3 linked regions of the Homo sapiens genome follow. The protein of the gene in region 1 purifies or fractionates together with the protein of each later gene. This does not show direct contact. Each region holds a gene or a part of one and is shown in the gene's direction. Other genes may lie near its edges.

The links. The genes of interacting proteins can lie anywhere in the genome.
Region 2: the proteins of SUV39H2 (region 1) and CBX5 purify together in Homo sapiens (affinity purification with mass spectrometry; 4 studies listed by BioGRID and IntAct, with this or other methods). This does not show direct contact.
Region 3: the proteins of SUV39H2 (region 1) and CBX1 purify together in Homo sapiens (affinity purification with mass spectrometry; 4 studies listed by BioGRID and IntAct, with this or other methods). This does not show direct contact.

Annotation. Positions count from the first base shown.
Region 1 is NC_000010.11:14,874,346-14,882,127, forward strand, and holds the start of SUV39H2 (histone-lysine N-methyltransferase SUV39H2), read left to right. Parts: upstream 1-4,520; 5' UTR 4,521-4,543; coding exon 4,544-4,574; exon of another isoform or gene 4,575-5,188; intron 5,189-7,154; coding exon 7,155-7,300; intron 7,301-7,782. UniProt on the Homo sapiens protein: Histone methyltransferase that specifically trimethylates 'Lys-9' of histone H3 using monomethylated H3 'Lys-9' as substrate.
Region 2 is NC_000012.12:54,248,555-54,256,536, reverse strand, and holds part of CBX5 (chromobox protein homolog 5), read left to right. Parts: intron 1-4,309; coding exon 4,310-4,496; intron 4,497-7,982. UniProt on the Homo sapiens protein: Component of heterochromatin that recognizes and binds histone H3 tails methylated at 'Lys-9' (H3K9me), leading to epigenetic repression. In contrast, it is excluded from chromatin when 'Tyr-41' of histone H3 is phosphorylated (H3Y41ph).
Region 3 is NC_000017.11:48,069,911-48,077,892, reverse strand, and holds the end of CBX1 (chromobox protein homolog 1), read left to right. Parts: intron 1-851; 5' UTR 852-888; coding exon 889-1,028; intron 1,029-1,714; coding exon 1,715-1,892; intron 1,893-2,792; coding exon 2,793-2,887; intron 2,888-6,313; coding exon 6,314-6,458; 3' UTR 6,459-7,834; downstream 7,835-7,982. UniProt on the Homo sapiens protein: Component of heterochromatin. Recognizes and binds histone H3 tails methylated at 'Lys-9', leading to epigenetic repression. Interaction with lamin B receptor (LBR) can contribute to the association of the heterochromatin with the inner nuclear membrane.

The DNA of each region.
Region 1 (7,782 bases):
ATATAAAAGGCCAGATAGTAAATATATACATATTTAAACTTAAACACTTTTACCACTAAAAGCTTATGTCAAATTATAGTTTTGCCTATTTACATCTGACATTGTCTGAAGAACAGAGCCAAATATAAAAATAGGAAGAAATACCTATGATGTGAAAGTCTTGGAACGTGTCTTAGTTTGGACTGCTATAATAAAGTACCATAGTCTGGGGGGTGGCTTGTAAACATCAGAAATGTATCATAGTTCTGGAGGCTGGAAGTCAGTTCGGGTGCTGGACCAGGCTGGAAGCGGGGCCGGGTTCTGATGAGGGCTCCCTTTTGGGTTGCCAGCTATCCTTATAACCTCACACGGAGGATAGAGGGCGAGAGAGCTCTGAAGGGTCCCTCTTGTAAGGGTGTCAATCCCATGCATGCAGCCTCCACCTTCATGATTTAATCACCTCCCAAAGGCCCCACCTCCCAATATAATCACTTTGGGGGCGAGGATTTCAACACTGGAATTTTTCAGAGATGAAAACGTTCAGTCCTTAACAGGAGGTCACAAAATATTCATCACAAACTGAAAGCTTTTATATGTATAAGAATTCTTAAAAGTATCCTAGCATAAAAGTTCTATGGGAAAAATCACAATATCTAAAATGATAATGAGTGACCATATAATACTGTTATTTGCTTTAATTCATTATCTCATTTTAAAATTTTGATCTCATCACAATTCCACGAGTAGTTGTACTATGTAGAGAGTAATATGGCCTTGGTTATTTCTGTTTTCCAGATAATAGATTCACAGCAGTTAAATAAAGTATCCAAGGTCTCACAGTGAATAAATGGTGGATTTTGAACTAACATTCAGATGCTTATTTTGTAAACTTAATTTTTCTTGACTGCTTACTATTTTAAGCACATTACATGGATTATTTCATTTAAATTCACATTCTTAATCTAGTGTTCATTCTATGATTCTTTGCCTCTCAGAAGAGAACGTTTATTTCAGTAGAAGAGGAGACACTCCAGAAATCATGTGGTCTTTGTGAAAAAAATACTGGGAAAGGGTCATGATTCTCTACTTTTCCCTTGAGGACCCTGGTGTGTGTCTCTCAGTGGCTTTTTATTTCTCTCTCCATTTATAGCCAGGATTTACCAACACCCTCAAACATTTTAGTCCCAGGAACCCTTTATAGTCTTAAAAAATAACATGTTGAGAACCCATAGAGCTTTTGTTTGTTACATATACATAAAATGTAGTTATATAACTATAGTTACCATATGGAAATTAAAACCAATTTTAAAAATTATTTCTAAGTAATAAAGTTAATTTTTTATGAGAAATAATTTTTCTAAGACAAAAAATTAGTGGCAAGGGTGGTATCTGGGGTTTTATTTTTTGTTTTTTGTCTTGAGACAGGGTCTTGCTCTGTTGCCCAGGCTGCAATGTAGTGGTTTGATCATAGCTCACTACACCCTCAAACTCCTGGGCTCAAGCGATCCTCCCACCTCAGCTTCCTGAGTAGCTGGGACCCCAGGCATGTGCCACCACGCCCAGCTAATTTTTTAGTAGGGTTGCCCTGGCTGGTCTCTAGCAATTCCTCAGCCTCCCAAAGTGCCAAGATTATACGTGCGAGCCACTTTGCCTAGCCAAAAGCAGTATTTTGTATTTTTTCAAATCTCTTTAATGTCTGGCTTAATAGGAGATAGCTATGTTCTGGTACCTGCGTCTTCGTTCAATGTGTTGCAATATTCAAATTGTGTAACCTCTAGAAAATTCCACTATGTACTCATGAGCGAAGGAAGGCAGAGAACATGTTGGTCTGAAAATAGTTTTGCGCTCATGAACCCTGTGAAGAGTCTTCGGGTCCCAATTACCATACTTTGAGAATTGCTGCTCTAGATAGTAAACACGGTGATGAATGTTGAACAGACAGGGCCTCATCTATGCGCTGGAATGGATGGGATTCAAGACACGAAACGAAACACTGGATTTACAAAATAGTGCGATGCATTCATTATGAATCAAGACCAAAGAACAAAAACCCGACAAGATAATTGCAAATTTTGATGAGTGCTTTTTAAGGATGCAAAGTAGGGCTAAAGAATGAGGTAACATGCGAGGCCTCTGTCAATAGGTGGTGTTTAAGCTGAGACCCAAGTGATCTGAAGGTAGCCATGTGAGGAGGGGAAGGAGCCTGTCCTCTTAACCGGAAAGTAATTTCCAGCTGCCTTCAGTGATTTGCTTTATCCGCTGCTCCTGTCACTAGGAAGTCAGCTCCATGAGGACTGGGTCTTTTTTCTTTCTCATCCACTGCTATATTCCCAGCACCTATCAGGTGCCTGGCACATAGGAGATGCACAGTAAAAGATTTCTGGGTAAGTGGGGCCGGGGAAAGGCCAGGAAAATGAGTAAAGGGGAGAGTGGCACCAAGTGAGGTGAGACAGGATTCCCATCACTGGAGGCCCTGCCGGCCATCTGGAGGTTTGAGTTTTATTCTGAATGCTACGAAGTTCAGAAGTGTATTTTTCCGGATATGTTCAATTTGAGATGTTTGTGCAACACCTAAGGGCATATGTCCATTACGCACTGTGGATATTCTAGCCTGGAATTCAGGCAGAGGCCAGGGCCGGAGACGATAAGTGAGGCATCTTGTGTGTCAAGATGCTATTTAAATCCATGGGAATTGGGGCAGTCACATAGGGAGAGGGCGGAAAAGAAATGCAGTCCCAGGACTACAGTCTCTTCTCTGAGGAACCCAGGTTGGACTGAGGAAAAGGAGCCAAAAAGGATTCAAGAGTGGCCAGTGAGTAGCGATGGCCGCTCCTTGGTGGGCTCTGAAAACATACAGGAGAGGTAATGAATACAGGGGCCGGTTAGGACGGGAGGCTGTATCCAAGTCTGAAGGCATAATCCTAGATAGACTAAGCCTTAAAGGGCCTGGATGCTCTTCCAGGTGACAGGGTTGGACAGGGCCTTTTATTCCTTATCTCAAGGTAATGAGATATGGAATACAAAATTTACTAAGGACTCAAATCTTAGAAACATGTCTGAGAAATGCAGTTGCATTGAAACACACACGGACTGCAGAACAGTATTTGTATTATGATGCCGTTTGTAGCTAAATAAAGTCTGGGAGCATGAGTGTGTGTGAGGAAGTGGTGTTTCCCATCGTAGAAAATGATTAAATATTTAAAAACGAGAAGTTAAAAAGAAAATCACTCCGAAAAGGCTATTTCGTTATTTTCCTATACATTTTTTTCTTCCATAGTTAAAACTATATTTCAGGGGGATTTGTTTTGGTTTTGCTGAATACTAAAAGCTTCATGAACACCTTTTTAAGACGGCTAGACAGTATTTCATAATGGAATCAAATAATTAACTATTCCTTTAATGGTCTGCGTTCATTTCCAGTATTTCAAATTTATACATACTGCTTTGAAACGTTTATGTAATTTTTTACATGAATTTTTTAAGGAGATATCAAATGGCCTTCTGCCAGTTTTCGTTATTTGCTCTAAGATTTCTGCTTTAGGTTGTTTAGAACAATCATGGATGCAGCGTCAAGAATGGGTGGGGGAGGGGGGTGGAGACCAGGTGGGAGGCCCCTGGAGTCGTCCTGCAGCTTCCTTACTAACGTGTCCTTCTCCTCCCGGCCCCCACCCGCCACCAGGCCGAGCTCAGGAGCTTGGCAACAACATGGGAGGGGAGCTCGGGTCCCCTTACAGACCTACCCAATCCCAATTTACATTAAAGTTGAGCCCAGGAGGTCTAGTCTGCAGTGAGCCGTAATCGCGCCACTGCACTCCAGCCTGGGTGACAGAGTGAGACCTCATCTCTTAAAAAATTCCAAGTCCAGCTCCCCCACCCCCGACGATTCGTAAGCCCCTTTAAGTGAGAAGCACTGATGTGGACCGGTGGTTTCCGCTGTGCCGCACATTAGGATCAGCTGGGAGCTGGATAGCACAGGCCACACCCCACACCAACCAGTCGGAATCCCGGCGACTGCCCCAAGCCAGCGGAACCTCTCCAGCCATGCCCACGTGCAGCCGCTTCCGAAGCCCGGAGCTCTAGAGGGAGCGGTGTCGGGGGGAGACTAACCATGGCCCACGGGGCTGCGGTAGCTGCGGAACCGTACCCGACAGGCAGCGTCCCCGGCTCCCTAGGTCCCCGCTGCCCGTGTCGGATCTCGCAGTGTGCGAGTGCTGCCGAAGTAAGACGTCTCCAAAGCGCAAAGTCCTGGCCGACGTCTTCCCGAGTGAAGGCGCCAAACGGGCCTGGCGAAGGGAAGGGGGCGCCGGACACTGCCGAGGATCCGGGAGCACGCGCGCTCGCCCCGCCCCGCTCCTCGCGCTTGGGGCCGGGCCTAGCTTTGGGGCGCAGGCGCGCTGGCCGCCGCGGCGGGGGGTCGGCCGCCAGTGACGTCAGGACGCCGTGCGGGTTCCGTCCCCCAACAAGCCCCGGCCCCCAAGTCCCGCGCGGGCCGGCCAGGGGCGGGGCGTCGGGCCAGCTGAGCTATCCCGTCAGACCGCGCCAGTTTGAATGAAAGCTCTACAAGATGGCGGCGGTCGGGGCCGAGGCGCGAGGAGGTGAGGCTGGAGCGCGGCCCCCTCGCCTTCCCTGTTCCCAGGCAAGCTCCCAAGGCCCGGGCGGCGGGGCCGTCCCGCGGGCCAGCCAGATGGCGACGTGGCGGTTCCCCGCCCGCCGCGACCCCAACTCCGGGACGCACGCTGCGGACGCCTATCCTCCCCCAGGCCGCTGACCCGCCTCCCTGCCCGGCCGGCTCCCGCCGCGGAGGTGGGCACTGTCCGAGCCTGGGGCACTTCGGAAGTGGAGCGTGGCCTCTCCGCCCGCTCGGCCCGGCCCCCTCCGCGTCTCCCGTGGCGGCCTCGGGCTTCGAGGCCGCTCCCCGGCAGTCCCCGGTTGGAGGTCCGGGGGGCACGGCTGCGACTGGCTCCTTTGTGGTGGTTCGAGCGCGGCGTGCGGCATGCGCCCGGGCCTTTGAAGTGGGAGGCGGGAAGCGACGCCCGCCGGCGTGAACATGACCTTAATATCAGAGGGGGAGAGTAAATCGGGGCGCCTGTGTGCTAAGAAAGGGGATAAGCGAGGAATCCCCCCCAAGGCGGACACGCTAGGAGGTTGAGTGCCTCGTTGGAGAATCGCCCAGAAAGTGGGTATTTGAGGTTGCAGCCTCTGGCTTACGGTAACTCTTTCACCCACCGGGAGCTTGGTGTTATTTCTGTGGACGCTGGGGAATTGGGCACCGGGGAACTGGGCACCGAGCGCGCGTGGGTGTGGGCGTCGGGGGGTGTTGGTGTCGCGCACGCTTTGAGAGCCTGGAACTTTTCCGTGCGTTCCGGAATGTAAAGGTGTTTTCAAGCTCGTCTCCTCTCCGCTGGGATTATGACCTCATTATCCCTGAATTTTTCTCCTTGGAGAATGTCAGGGGTTACTGTGAACCAGCGGAAGGTGTTTGTGGTGGTCATGAACTATTTAATTTTGTCAGTGAAATCTTTTTCTGCATTACTGGAGACTGTCGAGAGATTGTCTTTCTTTTTTTAACCACGTGTTTGCAGTTTTTCATGTTCACTTTTTTTTTTTTTTTAATTTTCAAAGAGCATTTCCTTTGCGGGTTGTGTTTTGAATCCTCAACTAGATAAAAATGTTTAGGAAAAGCACACAAACACACCTTGAGTAGATAAGAGGAACCTCCTTTATACGTGATTCCCTTAATGAGGTCAGCTTAACACAAAACGTTCTCTAGTTTTTGTAGATGGAAGGGACTTAGGGGGTCATTTCTTTCCCATCACTGTCCTACCCCCAAACGACCACTACAAAGCCAATCAGCCTCTTCCCCCACGTTTTCTGGAGGAAAATACCTTTGTCTTTACTGCTTTAGGATGGAATCGTTTGCAGCCAGTGAGATGGTAGAAATTATGCTTAAGGGTTTCTGACAATGAAGTTTCTGTGTGAGGTGGGGAGGATGAGGAAAGGGGCCGGAAAAGTTATTGCCACTAACAAGTGTTCTCCCTTCCCTGAAATTACCTCAAAACGCAAAAGGTGATCGCAACTACCTTGGAGAGCTACCAAGTAAAGCTTGAGTTTACTGATAGATTTTGTTTGGTAACACCAGTTTTCTCCATTTTTTTCCAGTGAATCTGACAGCCAAAAAGATTGAGACCTCACTAAAGTCACATAGCTCGGTGACCGAGCGATGGGTAGTGCAGAGGACTTTTGATTTTGTCAAGTGCTTACCATGACACTAGCCCTAACAACAAGTTTGTTCCATTTTCCTAAACGTGTTAATTTACACTTTAAATTCAGTGTGGTAACATGCTGCTTACAGAAATTTGAGGGTGAAATCTTCTGGAACGCAATTAGTTTCTGGTTTCTGGAGGGTTGATGATGAGTATGTCTAATTTTCTTTGAGTTTAGTACATGGCTTATGTAAATTGAACACCGTTTTAAAAGTTTGGCTTTAAAAACAGTACAGTCCATAAGTATTACAAAATATCGATATACTCCATTTTTTTAATAACTGGAGTTTATTCACCTTGGTGATAATATATTGCAGTATGGGTAGAATAATAAGTGGAATTAAAGCTTCATGCAACATATCAAAGAGAAAACTAACATATAATGAGTTTGTAACCGTAGAAATATATTTTAATTAGATTTCAGTTCGTTTTGTCCAGTTAAAAAAAATGAAAGTTACGTGTTAACAAATTATAAGATTGTTTTAAAGTATATTTTAGATATGTTTTTAAGAATAAGTGTCCTAGAGATTTACATTTTATTAAAATAGTGATTGTAGTCTATGTAGAATACAATGAAAGTGAAAAACATTATCTCTGTTGACCTGCATCTGTATATAATCTTAAAAAAGCTTACAGACATGAAACATTTTCAAGTGACTTAATGGAAATTAACTGATGTCAGTTAAACGTAGTGGAATAGAAATCCATGAGAAAATCCAAGAACACCAATTTAACAAAATAGTTCCTTAATGTTTAACTTTTTCTTGAAGACATGTAACTGGTTTCTTGTCATAGGAATTTTTAGTCTAAAATTGCCAGTTGAAAGATGGGGAATAGAGGTTTTAAGTTTCTCTTTTTTGTTTTAATTGAATAGCTATTTCATTAGTAAAGAATTCTATTTTCTTATTGTAGCTTGGTGTGTGCCTTGCCTAGTTTCACTTGATACTCTTCAGGAATTATGTAGAAAAGAAAAGCTCACATGTAAATCGATTGGAATCACCAAAAGGAATCTAAACAATTATGAGGTGGAATACTTGTGTGACTACAAGGTAGTAAAGGTAAGGCAAATATCTAGCCCCTTACAAGAGACCTAATCAGACTTCAGTATTTCGTATTTCTGTAACATAAAAAGAACATTAAAAGAAAAGCTCTTCTTAATGTTTAAAATTCTAAGGCATGATAAATTTATATGTCCTATCATCTGTGTTGCCAAATAGCATTGAGAGGATTTTGAAGCATAAAGTGTTCTTGCATTAGAATATTTTCAGGTGCTCATATCCCTCTACATCCAACTCTTGATTATCTCCGTGTGGGTTACCAGAGCAAATGTTTGATCTCCAATTGTCTTTCGTTTTGTTCGTGGATCGTATTTCCCCACTATCACCTGAAATGAACCTACCGTTTCAAACCAATTTTAGTGTTACTGACTCTCAAGAACATCACCATTTGCATTTCCTGCCATCTTGTCACACTCCAGATTTAGTCAGGTTCTAGGTTATAATAGAATGGCCTGGATTGCAAAGTCATTTCCAGCTTTTGT
Region 2 (7,982 bases), on another chromosome or scaffold:
ACCTAAATACACTAAAAGATACAGTGGTTTACCAATACTTTTGGATAAAGGCTATGTGTCAAGAACCTTTGAAACATACTGGAGGTTATTTCATTACATGACTCAAGGTTTCTCATCTGGAGAATTATTGGCGTTGTAGGTGGGATCATTCATGCATTGCAGGATGCTTAGCATCTCTAGCACCCAGAGTGCAAGTATGGGTAGCACAACAATCAGAAGATGCCCTCTGTTTGTAGAGAGGAGTGGTATCACAGCTTCCACTAGAGATGAGAACTGTTAAAGTTTGAGAGACCTCTAGAGCACTAACAGATAGGAACTAAAGTAACACCAGAAGATTTTGAAGATGTTTATTGGGCCCATTTCCACTGGAAATATTTGGGTGTTTGAAAGATACTTGAAACTCTTTCTCTGTCATTGAGCTACTGGTACCTTACCATAGATGAAAGGGGAAAAGGTAAGGTTTGGGGTAGACAAAGTAAACATTGGTCCTTTTTCAGAAATGCCCTGGATTTCATAAAAGACTGGAACAAATCAGCATTGTCTATAACTAAATGCCTACTTTGTGCTAGACAGTGATCAAATTCTACCTCTTGTGCTCTCTTCGATTCTCACAAAAGCATTTAGAGTCCAGGCATGGTGGTATGTACCCGTGGTCCCAGCTACTAGGGAGGTTGAAGTGGGAGGATTGCTTGAGTCCAGGAGTTTTGGGCTGTAGTGCACTAAACCGATCAGGTGTCTGCATTAAGTTTGGCATCAATATAGTGACCTCCCAGGAGTGAGGGACCACCAGGTTGCCTAAGTAGGAGTGAACCAGAGCAGGTCAGAACTCCCATTTTGAGCATTAGTAGGATCGTACCTGTGAATAGCCACTGCACTCCTGTCTGGTTAACATAGCAAGACCCTTGCCTCTTTCAAAACTTTAATTCTTTTTTTAATTTAAATTTTTACATATTTTTATCTTTTTTTTTTTTTTTTTTTGAGACAGAGTCTCTCACTATCGCCCACGCTGGAGCTCAGTGGCGCGATCTCAGCTCACTGCAACCTCCGCCTCCCGGGTTCAAGCGATTCTCCTGCCTCAGCCTCCCGAGTAGCTGGGATTACAGGTGCCTGCCACCACGCCCAGCTAACTTTTTGTATTTTTAGTAGAGACAGCATTTCACCATGTTGGCCAGGCTGGTCTCGAACTCCTGACCTTGTGATTCGCCCACCTCAGCCTCCCAAAGTGTTGGGATTACAGGCGTGAGCCACCACGCCCTGCTTTTTTATCTTCAAAATAGAGACAGGGTCTCACTGTGTTACCCAGGCTGGTCTCGCTCTCTTGGGTTCAAGCGATCTGCCTGCCTTGGCCTCTTGAAGTGCTGGGATTATAGGTGTGAATCACTATTCCTGGCCAACCCAGGCTCTTTTTAAATCATACTATGTTGTCTTTTGGGTGGAAACTGAAGTAGAAGCAGCAGTACCAAAGTGTTAGGAAAAGGGATAATCGCATTATAGGACTGGCTTTTCTAGCTATCAACAGATTCTTCCCAACCCCCAAGTGTATTCGGCTTGTGTAATAGTCTTGGTACACCTTTTGATATTGGTATGTTAATTTCCTCTGGGATGGTAAACTATATGGTCTGTGGGTTTTGGGGAAAGTTACTGTGTGAGGAATTTTTTTTCTTGACTTCTTTTCTTTTTTTGAGACAAGAGTTTTGCTCTTATTGCCCAGGCTGGTGTGCAATGGCGTGATCTTGGCTCACTGCAACCTCCTTCTCCCGGGTTCAAACGATTCTCCTGCCTCAGCCTCCTGAGTAGATGGGATTACAGGCGCCCGCCACCACGCCCTTCTAAATTTTGTATTTTTATTAGAGATGGGGTTTCACTGTGTTGGCCAGGATGGTCTCGACCTCCTGACCTCAGGTGATCCACCTGCTTCTGCTTCCCAAAGTGCTGGGATTAGAGACTTGAGCCACCGTGCCCGGCCGAGGAATTTTTTTTCTGCTGAGAGAAGGGATATAAAGGAGAAACTTTCCCATATTAGCTCAAATGATTTAGAAATAAATTTTGTCTCAATATTATGTTCCTTTTGTAGAAAGTTGTTTAGGTCAAGAGTAAATAGCTCAGATTTTTCCGTCTTTCTGCTTTCTACTTGAGTCAGGTTATTATGGCATGTGTTCAAATCATTCCCATCTAAATAAACCTTTTTTTTTTTTTTTTTTTTTTGAGATGGAGTTTCACTCTTGTTGCCCAGGCTGGAGTGCAATAGCTCGAACTCAGCTCACCACAACCTCCTGCCTCCCGGGTTCAAGTGATCCTCCCTCCTCAGCCTCCTGAGTAGCTAGGATTACAGGCAGGTGCCACCATGCCCGACTGCTTCAGCCTCCCAAAGTACTGGGATTACACGCATGAGCCACCGTGCCTGGCTGAATTTTGGGTTTTTAAATAGCTTTATCGAGGTATTATTTAAACACCATAACATTCACCCATTGAAATTGTACAATTCAGGCTAGATGCGGTGGCTCACATCCATAATTCCAGCACTTTGAGTGGCCGAAGCAGGCGGATCACTTGAGGTCAGGAGTTCGAGACCAGCCTGGCCAACATGGTGAAACCCCGTCTCTACTAAAAATACAAAAATTGGTGGCGCATGCCTGTAATCCTAGTTACCGGGGAGGCTGAGGCCGAAGAATGGCTTGAACCCAGGAGACAGGTTGCAGCGAGCCGATATCACACCACTGCACTCCAGCCTGCAAGACAGAGTGAGACTCCATCTCAAAAAAAAAAAAAATTGTACAATTCAGTGATTTTTTTTTTTTTTTTTTTTTTTGAGATGGTATCTCACTCTGTTACCCAGGTGGGAGTGCAGTGGTGCAATCACGGTTCACTGCAGCCTCAACCTTCTGGGCTCAAGGGATCCTCTCATTTCAGCCTCCCAAGTAGCTAGGACTACAGGTGCAAGCCACCATGCCTGAGTAATTTTTAAATCTTCTGTGGAGACAGGAGTCTTGCTATGTTGCTTAGGCTGGTCTTTGAACTGTTGGGCTCAAGTGATCTGCTCACCTTAGCCTCCCAAAGTGCTGAGATTACAGGCGTGAGTCACTGCGCCCAGCCCAATTAAATTATTATTATTGTTTTTTTTTGAGATAGAGTCTCAGTCTGTTGCCCAGACTGGAATGCAGTGGTGCAGTCTTGGCTCACTACAACCGCAGCCTCCCAGATTCAAGCAGTTCTCATGCCCTAGCCTCCTGCGTAGCTGGGACTGCAGGTGTGCACCACCAAGCCCAGCTAATTTTTGTATTTTTAGTGGAGACAGGGTTTTGCAATATTGACCAGGCTGGTCTCGAACTCCTGAGTGCCTCTCAAAGTGCTGGGATTACAGGCGTTAGCCACTGTGCCTGGCTCCAATTAAATGATTTGGAATAAATTTATAGAGCTATGCAACCACCACTATGATCCAGTTTCAGAACATTTTTGTGTCCCCCAAAATTCTCTTGATTCCCATTTGTAGTTAATTACAACTCCCTCCCTCAGCCCCAGGCATTCACTGATCTGCTTTTTTTTTTTTTTTTTTTTTTGAGACAGAGTCTGGCTTTTTCGCCCAGGCAGGAGTGGCACAATCTCAGCTCACTGCAACCTCCCCTTCCCGGGCTCAAGCAATTCTCCTGCCTCAGCCTCCCGAGTAGCTGGGACTACAGATGTGTACCACCACACCAAGCTAATTTTTGTAATTTTAGTAGAGACACGGTTTCACTGTGTTGGCCAGGCTGGTCTCAAACTCCTGACCTCAAGTGATCTGCCTGCCTCGGCCTCCCAGAGTGCTGGGATTACAGGTGTGAGCCACCGTGCCCGGCTGATCTGCTTTCTGTCTCTATAAATTTGTCTTTCCCAGACATTTCATGTAAATGGAATTAGTATGTAGTATCTTGTGTCTTATTTCTTTCACTTAGTATAATGTTTTTGGGGTTCTTCCAAGTTGTAGCATGTTTTAATATTTTGCTTATTGTTGTTGGATAATATTCCTTTGTATGGATATACCACATTTTGTTTTTCCATGTCACCATCCATTGATGAACATTTGAATTTGTTTTCTGTTTTTGGCTATTAAAATGCTGCTGTAAACAATTGTAAATAAGTCTTTGTGTGGGCTTTTTTTTTTTTTTCATTTTTCCTGGGTAGAAATCTAGGATCAAATTTGTTATCTTCTTTAAAGCATAGGGTTTCTCTGTCCTTTTTGTCCGAATGTCCTCTTTGAAATAAGGCATTGGATTTTTTTCCTCATTCTTTACCCCCCCCTTTTTTTTTTAATTTTCCCATTTTTCTTACCCAGGGAGCACAATACTTGGGAACCTGAGAAAAACTTGGATTGCCCTGAGCTAATTTCTGAATTTATGAAAAAGTATAAGAAGATGAAGGAGGGTGAAAATAATAAACCCAGGGAGAAGTCAGAAAGTAACAAGAGGAAATCCAATTTCTCAAACAGTGCCGATGACATCAAATCTAAAAAAAAGAGAGAGGTAAGCTTCCTTTCCCTTTTCCCCAAAAACTATTCTTTTGCCACCAAAATAATAATAATAAATAAAAGTATCATATTTTGGTTATTTCTATTGTAAGGATGGACCTATAAGGTAAATTGTTGAACAAAAGAGCTTCCAGGGAGGTATGTTGATTACAGCTCCCTCTCCTGGCTAAGTGAGAAATGTAATTTGTGGCCACTGGATTGTATTAAGGGGGCAAAATTAAATCTTTGTAAAATGTTAAACCACTCCTCTGCCTTCTCCATAAGTAGAAGACTTAGTTATCTTAGAGAAGGAGGATCATTGGTGAATTTTTTAAGAATAGAAAGGGGCTTTGAAATGTTTTGTTTTGTTTTGAGACAGAGTCTTGCTCTGTTGCCCAGGCTGGAGTGCAGTGGCTGGATCTCAGCTCACTGCAATCTCCAACTCCCGGCTTTAAGCGATTCTCATGCCTCAGTAGTAGCTGGGATTATAGGCACATGCCACCACACCTGGCTGATTTTTTTTTTTTTTTTTTTTTTTTTGAGACAGAGTCTTGCTGTCACCCAGGCTGGAGTGCAGTGGCACTATCTTGGCTCACTGCAAGCTCTGCCTCCCGGGTTCACGCCATTCTCCTCCCTCAGCCTCCCGAGTAGCTGGGACTACAGGCGCCTGCCACCACGCCCAGCTAATTTTTTTGTATTTTTAGTAGAGACGGGGTTTTACCATGTTAGCCAGGATGGTCTTGATAATTTTTGTATTTTTAATAGAGACGGGGTTTCGCCATGTTGGTCAGGCTGGTCTTGAACTCCTGACCTCGTGATCCGCCTGCCTTGGCCTCCCAAAGTGTTGAGATTATAGACGTGAGCCACCATGCCCAGCCGGGGCTTTGAAATGTTTACCATTTCACTTCCTTTTTTCTTTTTTTTTGGAGACAGAATATCGCTCTGTCACCCAGGCTTGAGTGCAATAGTGCGATCTTGGCTCACTGGAACTTCCACCTCCTGTGTTCAAGCAGTTCTCCTGCCTCAGCCTCCCAAGTAGCTGGGATTACAGGCACACGCCACCATGCCCAGCTAATTTTTTGTATCTTTAGTAGAGACGGGGTTTCACCATGTTGGCCGGGCTGGTCTCAAACCCCTTACCTTGTGATCCATCCACCTTGGCCTCCCAAAGTGTTGGGATTACAGGCGTGAGCCACCGCGCCCGGCCCTTTCTTTTTTTTTTTTTTTTTTTTTTTTTTTTTTTTTGAGACGGAGTCTCGCTCTGTCGCACAGGCCGGACTGCGGACTGCAGTGGCGCAATCTCGGCTCACTGCAAGCTCTGCCTCCCGGGTTCACGCCATTCTCCTGCCTCAGCCTCCCGAGTAGCTGGGACTACAGGCGCCCGCCACCGCGCCCGGCTAATTTTTTGTATTTTTAGTAGAGACGGGGTTTCACCTTGTTAGCCAGGATGGTCTCGATCTCCTGACCTCATGATCCACCCGCCTCGGCCTCCCAAAGTGCTGGGATTACAGGCGTGAGCCACCGCGCCCGGCCCCGGCCCTTTCTTTTGTTCCAGTGATAGCATTTGTTTTCAATCCTTGATAATCTTTTTTTTGCAGTGAAAATCATATAATATACAATTAAATATTTTATTTATTTATTTATTTTGAGACAGAGTCTTGTTCTGTCACTCAGGCTGGAGTGCATGGGCGTGATCTCGGCTTACTGCACCCTCACCTCCTGGGTTCAAGTGATTCTCCTGTTTCAGCCTTCTGAGTAGTTGGGATTACAGGCATGTGCCACCATAGCCAGATAATTTTTGTATTTTTATTTTTATTTTTTATTTATTTTTTTGAGACGGAGTTTCACTCTTGTTGCCCAGGCTGGAGTTCAATGGCATGATCTTGGCTCACTGCACCCTCCATCTCCTGGGTTCAAGTGATTCTTCTGCCTCAGCCTTCCAGAGTAGTTGGGATTACAGACATGCACCACCATGCCCAGCTAATTTTGTATTTTTAGTAGAGAGGGTGTTTCTCCATGTTGGTCAGGGTGGTCTTGAACTCCCTAACTCAGGTGATCCACCTGCCTTGGCCTCCCAAAGTGTTGGGATTACAGGTGTGAGCCACCATGCCTGGCTCAATTAACAATTTTAAAATGTACAGTTCAGTGGCATTTATATTCTCTTGATCTATTATTTCTACATACTTGGCGTACAAAATTAATTTTTGTCTTTTGAATCTTCTTCAGTTTGGGAAGTGTATTTATGAAATTTTGGTTTGATTTAGTTGCTTTAATCCTTCTGATCTTTAGCTCTCAAGTAAGTAGCATAAGCACTGTTATTGCCTCTCTCTCTTTTCATCTGTGTGTGGGCGCATAAATACACACACTCTACCACCTCCTCCCGCCCCCAGCTTCCATTCCTTTTATTTATTTCAAGGTTATGAAGCCTTTTGTGGTGAAGGATGTATCATACACTTTACATTTCATAAAAGCGTAAGTCTACTTCGGAATCTTCCAGCCTTCCAGAGTAGCTGCCACAATCATCCCTATGTATCTTCATTCTAATTAGATTTATACCTTTCTAGAGCATTAGTTCTCAATGCTACACATTATAATCACCTGGGGGGTACGTTAAAAAAAAAAAAAAATCTCCAGTGCCTAAGATGCACCCCAGACCAGTAAAATTAGAATTTTTTTTTTTTCTTTTTTTTTTGAGACATAGTCTCACTCTGTTGCCCAGGCTGGAGTGCAGTGGCACAATCTCACTGCAACCTCTGCCTCCTGGGTTCAAGCGATTCTCCTGCTTCACCCTCCCTAGTAGCTGGGACTACAGGCACATGCCACCATGCCTGGCTAATTTTTTGTATTTTTAGTAGAGATGGGGTTTCACCGTGTTAGCCAGAATGGTCTCAATCTCCTGACCTCGTTATCCGCCCATCTTGGCCTCTCAAAGTGCTGTGATTACAGGCATGAGCCACCACACCTGGCCTCTGTCATTTTTAAAAAGGAGCAGTCTGAATAATCTGGCTTGGAGCCACTGGCCAGTGCACAGAGTTTTGTTCCTAGGCCAGGTTCTGAAGCTGCCGACCTTGAAAACAACCCCCACATGTCCCTTACATCATAATGTTCATCTGGGACCCCTGATAGCATTCTTAGCAGTACTGGCTGCTGTCAGGTAGACAGCTGGAAAGATAGGTGATTGTATGTTTTAAAGGTATAGGAGGGGATTGTGTTTATTTCTTAAGACCACTGGAGAAGAAATTTGTTAGTTTGCATTATGCCTGATTTAAGATTACTGCCTGTATGATGATTTTAGCATTTTCTTCGCCCTGGCTCCTTTTCAGCAGCTTGAACGTTTTTCTTCCATTCGCCTCCTCTTCCCTCCCTATGTAGCAAACTGTTTTCAGTTGCCAGTTATGATTTACAACTTAGTCCATGCACCAGCATTCCAGCTGTGAGCAGCTGTGTGCACATCTGGGAACTTCTTCCCCTTAAGCACCCCCAAAAGAGGCTATGTTTTTAA
Region 3 (7,982 bases), on another chromosome or scaffold:
TGTGAGCCACTGCACCCAGCCTTTCAATTTAATGCAATATTTTAGCTACCGTGCTCTTTTACAACGGTTTTTTTGTGAAGATGGAGTCTTGCTGTGTTGCCTAGGCTGGTCACACACTACTGGGCTTCAGGAATTCTCCCACTTGGGCCTTCCAAAATGCTGGGATTGCAGATGTGAGCCTGCACGCCTGGCCCTAGCTACCATGCTTTATGGTAAAAGGAGTATTGGGAGCCTTTTAAAATTACCAAGAATGGGTATAAAAGTTTTAAATGGATACACAAGAATAAAGAAGTTTGCTGTGAAGGCCAGGCGTGGTGGCTCATGCCTGTAATTCCAACACTTTGGGAGGCCGAGGCAGGTGGATCACCTGAGGTCAGGAGTTCGAGACCAACCTGGCCAACACATAGTGAAATCCCGTCTCTACTAAAAAAAAAAAAACAAAAAAAACAAAAAAAAAAACAACAAAAATTAGCTGGGCTTGGTGGCACACGCCTGTAGTCCCAGCTGCTTGGGAAGCTGAGGCAGGAGAATCGCTTGAACCCAGGAGGCGGAGGTTGCAGTAAGCCGAGATTGCGCCACTTTGCACTCCAGCCTGGGCAACAGAGCAAGACTCCGTCTCTCAAAAAAAAAAAAAAAGTTTGCTGTAAGATTAATTGGGGCTGTTTTATGAGCTTTCTGGCTGGACATATCAGAAAACTATTTTGTATCGAGTGTGAGAAGAAGCCTAACACTTACTATAAGCAGCATACAATATTATCACCTGTCATGTCCCTGGTTTTCTTACCATCCAGATATTATCTAACCAATAAGAGTGCTCCCTAATGCCCTTTTTATTTCATTTATCATTTTAGCAGCGTCACCCTTTACACCAGAAAGCTGGCGGGCACTATGGGGAAAAAACAAAACAAGAAGAAAGTGGAGGAGGTGCTAGAAGAGGAGGAAGAGGAATATGTGGTGGAAAAAGTTCTCGACCGTCGAGTGGTAAAGGGCAAAGTGGAGTACCTCCTAAAGTGGAAGGGATTCTCAGAGTAAGTTTCACTGACACAGGTAAATGTAGCCACCACGTGTTTATCAGGAGTCTAGAGATGTATGAGACCTCCAGTGCTATGATGGATACAGTGTGACTCAGTCCCCACCTTCATGGCTTATTGTTTAATTAGGAATATGGCCTACTGCTTATAATACAAAGCAGAATGACTTCTTTTTAAAAATTATTTCTTTTGAGACGAGGTCTCGCTCTGTCACCCAGGCTGGAGTACAGTGGTGCAGTCATAGCTCGCTGCAGCCTCAACCTCCCAGGCTCAAGGTATCCTCCCACCTCAGCCTTCTAAGTAGCTGGTACCACAGGCATGCACCACCATGTCTCGCTTAGTTGCCCAGGTTTGTCTCTTAACTCCTGGCCTCAAGCAGTCCTCCCACCTGGGCCTCCCAAAGTGTTGGGACTACAAGCATGAGCCACTGTACCCAGCCCATAGTGATTGCTGAGAAACAGTTTTGTGTGTGGCTACAGACCAATTTAAATTGACAAATAAAAGTCATTTGCCTTTGAAGGAAGCCAGTTTCTTAGCTTTCTATTTATACTAAAAAGCTTCCCCATTCCCCAAGAATTTCAGCTTTTCCATAGACATCTGAGGTCTTGTCCTCTTACGATTATCCTTAGTATGAGTATACTTATTTGAGTGAAAGTGTGACTTGCTGTGCCCTCTGGTTTCAGTGAGGACAACACATGGGAGCCAGAAGAGAACCTGGATTGCCCCGACCTCATTGCTGAGTTTCTGCAGTCACAGAAAACAGCACATGAGACAGATAAATCAGAGGGAGGCAAGCGCAAAGCTGATTCTGATTCTGAAGATAAGGGAGAGGAGAGCAAACCAAAGAAGAAGAAAGAAGAGGTAAGAATAGAAGTAAGAATTTTTACTAGCCCACAATTCAAACTACTGTCAAAGTAGTTTTGTTCTGCTTCTTCCCTGATATTAGCAGCTGTCTCTTCTTAGTCCTGAAATCTTAGGTAGGCTAATGCCTACAAAGTGAGAGTGTACTGTCATGAAGCCACATGATCTCTTACTTTTTATCCATGGTACAGGAGCAGTAAATGGAAAACTTGCTGGGGACAGATATAAGGGCAAGTGAATTCATTCTTGTAAAAAATAGTTTTCAATATTTAATCATTAAAGGTGTGAGGTGGCTATTTTGACTTAATCAGTATCTTAAAGTAAGTTGTTTTTTGAGAGTGAAGAGATAGTTGTAAACATTGATTTTGCTTGGGCTGTATGTCCCTTTTCACATAGGGAAAATCTCATGCGCTTCAGACATTGATGAATAATCACTCCAAAGGATTCTAACAGCTCTCTTACTTGAGCCAAGGTATTGGTGAAATATTGGCAAAAGAGTTTGTGATTGGGCCGGGCACGGTGGCTCACACCTGTAATCCCAGCCCCTTGGGAGGCCGAGGCGGGCGGATCACAAGGTCAGGAGATCAAGACCATCCTGACTAACACGGAGAAACTGGGTCTCTACTAAAAATACAAAAAATTAGCTGACGTGGTGGCATGTGCCTGTGGTCCCAGCTACTTGGGAGGCTGAGGCAGGAGAATCACTTGAACCTGGGAGGCAGAGGCTGCAGTGAGCCGAGATCGCACCACTGCACTCCAGCCTGGGCGACAGAGTGAGATTCCGTCTCAAAAAAAAAAAAAAAGAGTTTGTGATTACATTAATCAGAGACACAGGAATGGTTCCAGTCTGGATAATAGTCCCATATAGATAAAATTGTTCTACCCATCTTGTTTTTACAGTCAGAAAAGCCACGAGGCTTTGCTCGAGGTTTGGAGCCGGAGCGGATTATTGGAGCTACAGACTCCAGTGGAGAGCTCATGTTCCTGATGAAATGGTGAGTCGGCCAGTGGCTCTGTGTGGTTGTTTTTTTTCTTCTCCCATTGGTTTCATGCCAGAGGAAAAGAGCTGGACCTTCGAAATTCCAATCACCCAAGTGTGAAATTGTTAAGATGGCATAGTCCTTCGATAGTGACCCTCGGCCTGACTGCCACCCTGGACTCATGAGTTACAGGTAGGAGCCCTTAGGAATCTTGGGTCTTTGCCCATATTTTTAGGAGGTGGGAGACAATCTAGAGTGGAAAGAGTGTGGGAAGGAATTACATTTCACTTCTGTAAATAAAGGGGGAGAAAATGAAATGTGATTGGACCACCCTCTCCTTCTACCACCTCCTTAATAAAGATGAGGCTGGCCCCAGAATCAGAAATTCTGCTAAATTCTCAGGGTTAGGAAAGAATCTGTAGTTCTTCCTTTTGTCCTTAATTGTTGGATCCCTTTCAATTTGTGCAGATTCTACAATTACAGGATCAGCCAGCAGGGGTCAGCAAGGCTCCTTAACTGCTATCAAGCATAGAGCAAGCCTGCTTTTTTCCATTATGAGTATAAATACCAGTGATAGTAATACTCCATGAAACAGCCTAATGAAGATAGTTATCCCAACAATCTCTGTAATTTTCCTACTCTGTCAAAAGAAGGCCATTCTTCCTATTTCTTGCTCATTCTCCCCACAAAGTGGATCTCAATGATTGTATTTAAAATTTGGAAGGAATAATTCTAAGCCATTGCCAATGAAGGCAGCATTCTAGAAACTTTGTCCTTTAAAACACACACACACACACACAGTCTATGGAGCTTTGTCCTTTTGTCAGTCCAGAACTTACTCTGAAACTCGTGTCTGTACTAATTATCCTCTTTTACAGTATGGCTGGAGGGGCCTAACTTTAGCACCACTGAAAGCCAGAGTCACAACTAACTAACCTATTCTCTTCTATGTATTCCCTAGGCAGTTACTGGAGCTGCCCCTCTTTTAGCTGATTTATTGTTAACCTATAAGAGAAAAGTTCATTTTTAAGATGCTGCTTATTGGGTGGGAGAAGTTATACTGTGAGTTACTCAGTTTAGCTAGAATATACTTTTTCTGCATGTGACCAGTGTGAGTTACAGTAGTATCTCCATATTGCTTAAGATTGTACTCCTTTGGTTGACTCACTACTGTCTTTTTTTTTTTTTTTTTTTTTGAGACAGTCTCACTCTTTCGCCCAGGCTGGAGTGCAGTGGCACGATCTCAGCTCACTGCAACCTCCGCCCCTCCGGGTTCAATGATTCTTCTGCCTCAGCCTCTCAAGTAGCTGGGATTACAGGCATGTGCTACCACGCCTGGCTGATTTTTGTATTTTTCATAGAGATGGGGTTTCACCATGTTGGCCAGGCTGGTCTCAAACTCCTGACCTCAGGTGATCCACCCACCTCAGCCTCCCAAGGTGCTAGGATTACAGGCGTGAGCCACTGCACCTGGCCGACTCACTGCTGTCTACAGGTTAAAACTGGATTTGATTATAAGACAAAGTACATTTTAAAAAGTTATTTTACTGGAGAATAGAGATTTTTGTATATTTCTAAAAGTAGTAAATATTTCTGGGGAGTGAAATGACTAAATTTAACTCAGAGGGTGTTGTTCAGCTGTCAGCAAATGGCAGCATGCTTCAGATTCCCATTTCCCTCCCATTCTCTTGGGTCCATTGTTCAAAAACATACATTATCAGCTTACTCTTCTGCTCTATGGGACTATGTGGCTCTGATTTCCTGTTATTAAGGTTCTAGAGATTTGGGGTGGTGCTTTGTCAGAGATGTCATCAGGTGTCTCCTGCTTGCTTTACGCTACTGCTTCTGTCTAGGACATTCCTAATAACCTGAAGATAAGAGTTTGTTTTTTTTTTAAATGAGACAGAGTCTCGCTCTGTCACCCAGGCTGAAGTGCAGTGAGGCGATCTCTGTTCACTACAACCTCCACCTCCCAGGTTCAAGCGATTCTTGTGCCTCAGCCTCCCGAATAGTTGGGATTACAGGCGCACGCCACCATGCCTGGCTAATTTTTGTATTTTTAGTAGCAACACGGTTTTGCCATGTTGACCAGGCTGGTCTTGAACTCCTGGGCCTGCCCACCTTGGCCTCCCAAAGTGCTGGGATTATAGGCGTGAGCTACTGCTCCCTGCCTAAGAGTTTACTCCTAATTCCCTTATAATGTGTATGATTTTCAAATTTTGAAAACTTTTTTTTTTTGAGACAGAGTCTCACTCTGTCGCCCAGGCTGGAGTGCAGTGGCATGATCTCGGCTCACTGCAAGCTCTGCCTCCCAGTTTCACGCCATTCTCCTGCCTCAGCCTCCCAAGTAGCTGGGACTACAGGTGCCTGCCACCACACCAGGCTAATTTTTGTATTTTTAGTAGAGACAGGGTTTCACCGTGTTAGCCAGGATGGTCTCGATCTGACCTCGTGATCCACCTGCCTCGGCTTCCCAAAGTGCTGGGATTACAGGTGTGAGCCACTGCGGCCAGCCACTTGAAAACATTTTAAAATTCAGAAAACTACAGCTCCCTCATTTTCTACTCCCGATGTTGAAACATCATTTCAAAGCACCTGGAAGTTATGCGAGGATAGCATTTGGAAGTGTCAGTGTAATTACGATTATGCAAAAAGTGTCCATCTTCATTTGCTCTGGCCAATGCCAGATGTGGTATTTAATCCTATTACGGGCCGGGCGAGGTGGCTCATGCCTGTAATCCCAACACTTTGGGAGGCTGAGGCAGGTGGATCACCTGATGTCAGGAGTTCAAGATGAGCCTGGCCAACATCTTTAGTAGAGATGGCAAAACCCCATCTCTACTAAAAATACAAAAATTAGCTGGGTGTGGTGGCGCACACCTATAATTCCAGCTATTAGGGGAGGCTGAGGCAGGAAAATCGCTTGAACCCAGGAGGTGGAGGTTGTGGTGATCCGAGATCATGCCACTGCACTCCAGGCTGGGCAACAGAGTGAGATTCTGTCTCAAAAAAAAAAAAAAAAAAATCCTATTACAAAGCCAAGATTTCTCCATGGGTTCTTATCAGCTGGGATATGGCTTTTGGAGGAGTGTGGTAACTTCTCTTCCCTCAGAGAATCTAGGTATCCTCTCTTCCCTCAGAGAATCTAGAGAGTCATGCTTTTTGGGGCCTTGCCCAGATGTTCAGATGTGATTGGTTAAGTCCATTGACCTGGCTTTTGACATACACGAATCCCCAGAGGGAATTTTCAACAGGAGAGTTAACTCTGAGGATGTCACTTGACATACAATTGCCAGTAAATGCTGCTTGGGCCACGTTTTCATTGTTCCCTAGCCTATTTTTCTAAAATTACCATTTTTAAAGCACTGTCCCCTGGGTTATCCAACTTAGGATAGACCACCAGCACCTGGTCTCAAAGTCTCTCTTTGCTTTATTCTGCAGGAAAAACTCTGATGAGGCTGACCTGGTCCCTGCCAAGGAAGCCAATGTCAAGTGCCCACAGGTTGTCATATCCTTCTATGAGGAAAGGCTGACGTGGCATTCCTACCCCTCGGAGGATGATGACAAAAAAGATGACAAGAACTAACGCTCCTGAGTACCAGCCCCTGTCACATCTGACTGTGGGTTTCAAGTGGGAAGGGAAGGAGTTCTACTTGTCTTGACACCATAGAGGTGGCTTGAGAAGATGTCCTTTGAAGAGCCAGTATAGTTTCTGTGCCCTGCAGCAGCCCAAGTGCTTTAAAGCCGTTTCAAGCTGTATAGTTTGCACACCCATCCCAGTGGAGGGGAAAGGGGATAAGTGTTTCAAGGCAACCTTTTCTGCACTTTGCTGCGAAAAGCAAAGGGCCTTCTATGAAGGACAAAACTTGCAGAATTGGGTGTGTGGGAGAGCAAAAAAATACTGTAGATCTTCAAAGAGCATCTCCACAACCCACAGCCTTCTTCCCAATAGTGTTAACTCTGCATTTTTACAGCGTAGCATGTGTGTAGTTTTTGGCTATTACTGGTGTATTATTTGGGGGAGGGAGGGATGGGGAGGGGAGAAAGGGAGATGGGTAGCATCATTTTGATTAACATTTGGGGCCTGATAGGGGAAATGGTGAAGCAATGGAAAAGAACAGACAACTAATGATTTGCTTCTATGTCCAGAATATTTTACCTTTAAAAAAATGTCATTGGCACCATAAATAAGGACTGTGAGAGACTGTTTAAAAGCTGTGAAAGTCTGAAACCTATAAGCCAAGGTGTTCCCTGCCTAAACTTATTGCTGTTCCCACAAAGGACTAAGCCTGTTCATAAGTTACCAAAGTTGCCATTTTGGAGATGGAAATTGACGAGGAGGGAAGGTCTTTTATTGGAGAGTATACAGTACAAGCAGATCATTCTGCCTTAGAGGTGCTAATTCCCGAAATTAGAAGACCCTTTCTTTTCCAGTAACGAAGTTATAAATATCAGCTTGTTCATCCAAGCCACTGGCTGAGGTGTTAGGAAGAGGAAGAGGGTGGTAGAGGAGGTAAGACAGTAGGGAAAGACAAGGGCCCATGCTCTTAGTGGGGAAAACTCTTGGAGCCGTTTACTTTGAGCTTTGAACACTGAAACCATTGTTGGCAGGGTTCAGTCACTGACAGCACAAGTTTCACTGAATTGATCCAAGAGTTTAGTGATTTCAAAAGCCTTGGTCTCAGGAGAAGATTAAACTTTCATATTGGGCAGTGGTTCACTTTAAAACACACACATACACACACAAAACAATTTTTTAAGAAATCCTAATAAGTAACATACCCAAAATGCTCTGTCTTGAGTCATGAGAACCATCAGTTCTTGATATTGTCTAGACTTGCATCTAGAGCTACGTTGTAAAATTCTTTTAGGCATGTGTTAGATTTCTGTGTAAACTTTGTTTAAATGTAAACTTCATACTACATTGTCAGTTTTTGTCTTAATAAAACTATAGATTTATAATCCCTGATTTCTGTCTTAAGTCTTACCAGGAACCCTTCTTGCCTTATAGGTTCAGCCTGTTGGAAATGGCTTCCTCACTTGAATGGTTTTATTTCTTGAACACTGTAGGCTTGAAAATCTAGTGCCTGGCCTGAATCTTTAAGTGGTC